Linked DNA regions of Homo sapiens. The protein of the gene in region 2 purifies or fractionates together with the protein of the main gene of each other region. This does not show direct contact. Each region holds a gene or a part of one and is shown on either strand. Other genes may lie near its edges. The genes, in order: LZIC and METTL26.

Evidence for each region.
Region 1: the proteins of METTL26 (region 2) and LZIC purify together in Homo sapiens (affinity purification with mass spectrometry; one large-scale study listed by BioGRID and IntAct). This does not show direct contact.

Annotation. Positions count from the first base shown.
Region 1 is NC_000001.11:9,933,367-9,937,174, forward strand, and holds part of LZIC (protein LZIC), read right to left. Parts: intron 3,262-3,808; coding exon of another isoform or gene 3,254-3,261; coding exon 3,153-3,253; intron 2,262-3,152; coding exon 2,126-2,261; intron 1,495-2,125; coding exon 1,396-1,494; intron 1-1,395.
Region 2 is NC_000016.10:633,801-637,836, forward strand, and holds METTL26 (methyltransferase-like 26), read right to left. Parts: upstream 2,506-4,036; 5' UTR 2,491-2,505; coding exon 2,294-2,490; intron 1,975-2,293; coding exon 1,812-1,974; coding exon of another isoform or gene 1,718-1,811; intron 1,541-1,717; coding exon 1,481-1,540; intron 1,264-1,480; coding exon of another isoform or gene 1,157-1,263; coding exon 1,089-1,156; intron 998-1,088; coding exon 919-997; intron 845-918; coding exon 797-844; coding exon of another isoform or gene 726-796; 3' UTR 630-725; downstream 1-629. Other genes in the region: WFIKKN1 (WAP, Kazal, immunoglobulin, Kunitz and NTR domain-containing protein 1 precursor), read left to right, coding at 1-257.

The DNA.
Region 1 (3,808 bases), on a different chromosome or scaffold from region 2:
AAGAACTACAGATATAATCCAAGGCAAATATGATAGAAATGTTAAATGCAGTTCTAGTAAATCATCTAGTAAAATATCACCTCTTCCACCAGAAACACTAATAGCATGTACCACACATTGGGAATATTCAAAGTACTTTTACACATATTACTTCATTTAATCCTCATAAGAACCATAAGAGGTAAGGACTATCTTTGTCATGTTTTTACAGACAGAGAAACCTAGGCACAAAGGGGATGAATAAAATAAGTTGTCCAGGCCAGGTACAGTGGCTCATGCCTGTAATCCCACCACTTTGGAAGGCTGAGGTGGGTGGATTGCTTGAGCTCAGGAGTTCAAGACTATCCTGGCCAACATGGTGAAACCCTGTCTCTATGAAAAATACAAAAATTAGTGGGGTGTGGTGGTGTTGTGCCTGTGGGCCCAGATACTTGAGGGGCTGAGATGGGAGACGCTTGAGCCCAGGAGACAGAGGCTACAGTGAGCCGAGATTGCATTACTACACTGAGCCTGGGTGACAAAGTAAGACCCTGCCTCAAAAACAACAACAACAACAAAAAAACAAAAAACAAACAAAAGGCTAGGCGCAGTGGCTCCCATCTATAATCCCAACACTTTGGGAGGCTGAGGCGGGCAGATCACTTGAGGTTAGGAGTTCAAGACCAGCCTTGACAACATGGTAAACCCCATTTCTACTAAAAATACAAAAATTAGCCAGGCGTGGTGGCATGTGCCTGCTGTAGTCCCAGCTACTCAGGAGGCTGAGGCAAGAGAATCACTTGAACCCAGAGGCAGAGGTTGTACTGAACCGAGATTGCGCCACTGCCCTCCAGCCTGGGCAACAGAACAAGACCCCATCTCAAAAAAAAAAAAAAACATAAAAAACTTGTCACATACCTCAGTAGTGAAGCAGGAATTCAAATCCAGCCAGTCTGACCAAAGTCCATGCTCTGAATCACTATGCTACTGAATTGCCCATACTTACAAATAATTTGGTAACTCTTAATTACATCCAAGCCTATAAACAGACTTCTGGAAGTATCAGGTTTACAAAGATACTTGAAATTCTTAGATGAGATAGGCTACACATGCATACAAGCAATGCTGCTAATTAATTCTCAATGTGATTTTAAGTTAGAGCTCCAGAAGTAAATGGTAAAACATTAAAGGTGGAGTCCAGGTAGAAGTGGTCAGTGGCAATTTAAACTGCCGTATATTGTTTAAAGCTCTACATTCATTATCAACTATAATTGCTCAAAGTACTAATTTTGTCAGAAAATTGTTAGTTGTGGCTCTAAAATCACCTGGCAAATTTTTAAGCCATAGGATATCATAATGAATTGGCCTAGGAAATGAAAAACACACAGCAACCAAATCAATTTAAAGAAATTTTACCTCTGCTAACCTTGTCCGAAGCTGACCTGGTTGTTTCTTTGCAAACAATCTGATGACCTCTGGGGTTTTAAAGGCCTGGCTGATAGCTGCCTGAATAGCCTAGAAACACAAGAAGGCAAAAACTAACCAAAATAGTCCAACAAATCAGATATTGCAATAACTGATTGACGGATCCTTAATTTTTATCAAGGTTTACTGGTTCCTGTCATGGAAGCAATTACACAACTAAATGAAGATCTGGAAGGATATGTTGTGTATGCATAAACAGACACTCATCTAGAAGTTACACCTTGGGAGGCCAAGGCAGGAGGATTGCTTGAGCCCATGAGTTTGAGACCAGCCTTGGAAATGTAGCAAGACCCCATCTCTAAAAAAAAAAAACTAAAGGCCAGGCACAGTGGCTCACGCTTGTAATCCCAGCACTTTGGGAGGCCGAGGCAGACAGATACCTGAGGTTGGGAGTTCAAGACCAGCCTGACCAACATGGAGAAACCCCGTCTCTACTAAAAATACAAAATTAGCTGGGTATGGTGGCACATGCCTGTAATCCCAGCTCCTCAGGAGGCTGAGTAAGGAGAATCGCTTGAACCTGGGAGGCGGAGGTTGCAGTGAGCCAAGACTGCCCCACTGCACTCCAGCCTGGGCGACAGAGTAAGAATGCATCTCAAACAAAAACAAGAACAAACAAAAAAACAAAGTCTGTCCTCTGTCGCCTATATGTTATACTTACCAGCTGCATTCCACTTAGTTCATCTACCAAAGTCATATTTCCAGACATAATTTTCTTTAGTGAATCATTAAATTCACTTAGTTGCTCCAGAGTTTCCTTTTTGGTTTCTTCATATTCATCTGTATCAAGTTCCTCTCTGAAATAGGTGAACATCATGATATGGAAAAATGAAGAGTTCCAAGTGAAAAATGCAATCTTAATACTTGTACATTAGAGAAAGACTGAAGGGAAATATCAAAATGCTGATGGTGAATGTGTTCACATAGTAGTAGTGAGGGCATTTTCCTGCAATATAGTTACTTTGGTAAACATTTTTCTTTTACCAAAATGAGGATACTTAAGAAACCACATAATAAAGCAGGGTGCCGTAGCTCACACCTGTAATCCCAGCACTTTGGAAGGCTGAGATGGGCAGATCACCTGAGGTCAGGAGTTCGAGGCCAGCCTAGCCAACATGGTAAAACCCCGTCTCTACTAAAAATACAAAATTAGCCGGGCATGGTGGTGCATGCCTGTAATCCCAGCTACTCGGGAGGCTGAGGCAGGAGAATCGCTTGAACTTGGGAAGCAGAAGTTGCAGTGGGCTGAGATCTCGCCACTGCACTCCAGCCTGGGCAATACAGCAAGACTCTGTCTCAAAAAAAAAAAAAAAAGCTGCAATGAACTGTTGTGGTCCTTTGTGCAGGTAAGGCTGAAACTACATGCCAGAAGTTCAAGTAGTACCTTCTTAGCCTGACAGCAGGTAGGACTGATTTAAATACTAAAGACAAAGTAGGTGTTATTTCTACTTCAAGGAAGGTAAGTATTTTGCTCAAGTTCACATGCACTTAGTAGTTAACTGAATGACTTTCATTTCCCAGCCTTTATGACTCCAAAGCCTGCAATAAGTTTACTTCTCTAATAGACAAAGCACTGCAAAGAACACTACAGGGGAATGCAGAATCATCACACATGGGCCTGCATCCACGGAGCTAGCTGCAGAAAAAACGCCAGTTTCCAGCATAACAACATACAATTAAACTCTTACCTGCATTCCTCCAGATCTTGTAATTGTTGCATGAGTCTATCCAACTGTTCTTCTAAATTCTGCTTTAATTTGCTTGTCTCTGTCTTTCCTCTGGAAGCCATTTTAATCTCTATGTGAAACAATAAACCCACATACCATATGAAATTAACATACCAGTGCAATTTTTTTAAGTTTTATTTTTTGTAGAGACAGAGTCTCACTATGTTGCCCAGGCTGGTCTCGGAACATCTGGCCTAAAGTGACCCTCCCATCTTGGACTACCAAAGAGGTGGGATTATAGGCATAAGCCACCACACCCAGTCCCTAGTGCAATTAAAAATATGCAGCTGCGGCCAGGCGCCGGTGGCTCAGGCCTGTAATCCCAGCACTTTGGGAGGCCGAGGCGGGTGGATCACAAGGTCAGGAGATCAAGACCATCCTGGCTAACATGGTGAAACCCCATCTCTACTAAAAATACAAAAAAGGCCGGATGTGGTGGCTCACGCCTGTAACCCCAGCACTTTTGGAAGCCGAGGTGGGTGGATCACCTGAGGTCAGGAGTTCAAGACCAGCCTGAGCAACATGGGGGAAACCCCATCTCTAAAGAGAAAAAAAGGCCAGGCACGGTGCTCACGCCTGTAATCCCAGCACTTTGGGAGGCTGAGGTGGGCGGATCA
Region 2 (4,036 bases):
AGGATGACAAGATGGGCCTCAAGTTCTTGGGCACCAAGTACCTGGAGGTGACGCTGAGTGGCATGGACTGGGCCTGCCCCTGCCCCAACATGACGGCGGGCGACGGGCCGCTGGTCATCATGGGTGAGGTGCGCGATGGCGTGGCCGTGCTGGACGCCGGCAGCTACGTCCGCGCCGCCAGCGAGAAGCGCGTCAAGAAGATCTTGGAGCTGCTGGAGAAGCAGGCCTGCGAGCTGCTCAACCGCTTCCAGGACTAGCCCCCGCAGGGGCCTGCGCCACCCCGTCCTGGTGAATAAACGCACTCCCTGTGCCTCAGACCTCCTGGCTTGCTGCTGCTGGTCGGGCGACCCTCATCCTTCCAGGTGCCCCATGCCCAGCCAGTTTCCGCTGGGGCCTTGACACCCACTGGGGCTTGGGCTTTGGTACAAGGTCACCAGGGAGTGCCTGTCCGCCCCTGCATCCCCAACCAGCTCCATCCTGCCTCAGCAGCTGTCTCGGCCCCAATCCCACTGCCCGAGCTCCAGCAGCAAGGATCAGGACGTCCCAAGCCCTTGACCCCACAGGAGACCCCGTCTCCCACCCAACCTCACAAGGTGCTCCTAGGAGGAGGTGGGGCAGACACCAGCAAGCCGGCAGCAGGACATGCTTTATTCTGAGCAGGCTGGGCCCTTCGGCCAGCGGCTGAGAGCACAGACTGGGTGGGGCTGTCGTCCACAAGGTCCGGCCTAGGGAGGCAGGGTTCGTGCCTCACAGAGCCTCCGGCAGGGATGCAGGTGTGCGGGGGTGAAGGAGGGGCTTAGTTTTTCCGGAAGATCAGGCATTTGTTGTTGGCTGGCATGTCCACCTGGAGAAACACTTTGCTGGAGGACGGCCCTCAACCCCTAGAGAGGTTGCCTGGGCCCCCGCTCCCCCACCTACCATCCTCTCCAGGAGCAGGCCACTGGCCTTTCCCAGGTCCTCCAGGAGGGCTGTGTCCCGAAGCCCCCATTCTGGGTTCCTGCAGAGGGTGGGGAGATGGAGTCATGGCCTGGGGGGTGCCACCCAAGCCACCTGCCACCTGAGCCAGACCCCCCGCCTCTAGCTCTGACCTGCATCTGAGCATCAGGTCAAAGTCCACGTTGCTCTGGGGGGAGATCTTCCCATTGATGGCATAGGGCTGTGGGCATGGGGACACAGCCCACTGGACCAAGGTCGGGGTATTTCCCAGAGAGCCTGGGACAGACTTGCAGGCTGGGGTTTGGAGAATGAAAGGGCACCCCCTCCCTGTCCCCAAGAGGGAGTCAGCCAAGGCCAGCCTGGTGGGCAAGGGGGTAGGGAGGCTGGCAGATGACCCAGGGAGGGGTACAGACTGGAAGTGGAGGGGAGGCCGTGCTGGTGGCTGGGCGGGGGGCAGGGAGCCCAGGAGGGAGGACTCTCAGCAGGGCAGGAGACAGCAGCTAGGACTGGGAGCGGGAGGCCCGCCGTGGACAGGCCCACTCACCCCGTAGGTGATGAGCAGGGCCCTGGGTTTGAGCAGGTGTCCTGCTGCTCTGAAGAGCCCCTGGTGAGTAGGAACAGGACGGCAGTGAGGTGCTGCCCCCAACAGAAGCCAGGCCCTGAGGCTGGAGACCCTCACCCCGACTGTGATGGGGGAGGCTGGAGACCCTCACCCCGACTGTGATGGGGGAGGCTGGAGACCCTCACCCCGACTGTGATGGGGGAGGCTGGAGACCCTCACCCCGACTGTGATGGGGGCAAATCTGGCATCCCAGCTGCCCCCATGCAGGGTGAGTGGTGCCACGGCAGACACCCATGCTGGGCTCCCCACAGACCTCCGTGCAGCGCAGGGGGCTGACATGGGCCATGTTGATGCAGAGCAACAGGTCCAGCGACTGTGGCAGGATCCCGCCCCAGTGCTCCCAGCCCCACGTCACGTCCAGGTGTAGCGGGGCCTTCACGTTGGTCAGGCCCTGGGCTTGCGTGGTGGCCGCGATGCTGCAGGAGGCGAACGCTTGGGTGGGGGCCGAGTCCTGTGCACCCGCCTTTCCGACGCCCCCACAGAATTTCTTAGGGGAGGCTGGGGGGCACGTTGAGGAGCGGAGACCAAAGCGGCTGGGAAGGGGGACCCCGAGGTCCACCCACTTCCGCAGCCGCGGGGGCCGCACAGCTAGGGCCTGCCCCGGGGGCACCCCCAGGCTCCCACCCCGCACCCTCAGAGCCCGAGCCGCATCCTTTTCCTCCGGGGCTGCGGGCCGTGGGCTCTTGAGGCCCCGGACCGCCGCACCGATAGAAGTGGCCGCCCCGGGGGCCGCACCTGTCCAGGCAGCGCTGGTCCACGTCCGACGGCTGCCACTCGGCCAGGGGGAAGGCCCGCGCGAAGTGCGCTGCGTGCTGGCCGGAGCCCGAGGCCACCTCGAGGACGCGGACGCCACGCTGGGCCGGATCCAGGTACTGCCGCAGCACGTGCAAGATGGGATCCTTGTTCCGCTCCGCGGCCGCCGCCACCAGCATCGCGGCAGCAACAACTCCCCGCCGCGGACGCGGCGCGGGTCGCGTCGGGGGCGGTGGCCGGGCTTCCGCGGGGCACGTCGGGAGCTGTAGTCCAGATACCGCGGGGCACGTCGGAAGCTGATAAACTACAACTCCCAGGAGCACGCGCGCCTCCTGTTAAAGGACCAGCAGTCGCCAGAGGCACGGTGGGGAGCGGCTCAGCGGTGTGTGGCGGTCCCAGGCAGGGGACTGAACGGCGAGCTTGGCTTGCTGGTTTACAGGCGCCTCAGCTCAGGCACCCTGTCGCCCATGGCCGTCCAGGGTTTTCAGGGCACCTGTGTCACTCTCCGAAATTTGTGTCAGCGCTGCGCCAGACTGGGCGCCTTCCCTTGGTTTCGGGTTTTCTCTACTTTTAAATTTCTGGCGTTAGCGAGAGTTCGATGTTCAAATGGGAAAAAAAACTAAGTGCGCCGCCCGGGAATCGAACCCGGGTCGCAAGAATGGGAATCTTGCATGATACCACTACACCAGCGGCGCTGTCTAAGACAGTTGCTGCCCGCGGAGACAAGAGACTGTGACGCGGGAAGTCCTCCGGGCGTGCGCCGCCGCTGGCGCCGGGCTCAGCGCAAGGGAGCTGGCGACTGCATAGGAGGACCCAGCTGGCGGGACCGCGAGGGTAAGAGTCTCGCGGTGCCCCCCAGTGCCGGAGGGGAAGGAGCGGGCGTGAAGGACGCGAGCTGGAGGACAGTCTCGATTCGGGCCTGAGCCGTGGAAGCCGTTGGCCTTCGTGAGCCGATGGGGGCGAGGCCCTGTCGGGGCGGGGCTGGGGAGAGGGCGGGGCTGGGCTGGGGCCCCCTGTTGGTCCGAGTTTAGGGCGGGGTTGCCGGAGGGGCGGGGCCATATCGGGGCGGGTCCGAGAGGGGAGGCGGGGCTGGGGGGCGGGACATGAGTGTGGACTGGCGGGTTGGGGCGGGGCCAGAGCGGGGTTGCGGCAGGGGCGGCAGGGGCGGCAGGGGCGGCAGGGGCGGCAGAGGGCGGGGCGGGCGGTCCCAGCCTGCAGAACTGGGCGGTCTGCGGGAGGGGCACGAATAATGCCCCAGGGTTTCTCTGTGACACTGGGGTAACAGCACCAGCTCAGGGCCCACGGATAGCGTGAGGGGTCGGTCGGTGACCCCCGAAATCAAGTCACAGGCCGCGATTTATGTGCGCCCGAGGGTTGGGGTCCCAGCCTCAGAGCCGGGCTCTTCTCCAGAAAGTGCCAAGCGCCTGGCTCTGCATTCAGGACTGGCTTAGCGCCTTTGCTGAGCCGTTTTTCACCAATGGGAACCCCATATCGCTCTGGCTAGGGCAAGGACGTTGGAAGGGGTAAACCAGGGAGGGCCAGTCACGTGGCTCAGGGTAGGAGAGTGGCTTACAGGCTGCCAGTCTGGGACTGGGAACGCGGGCCATGGGGGGCTCAGGGAGTCAGGGGTCAGGGACAACCCTGCCAGGAGATGTTGGTGTCCGCCGTGGTGGTGACTGGCCAGACCCTGCAGCAGGCTCTGCGGCCCAAGCCCACGCTTTCCTC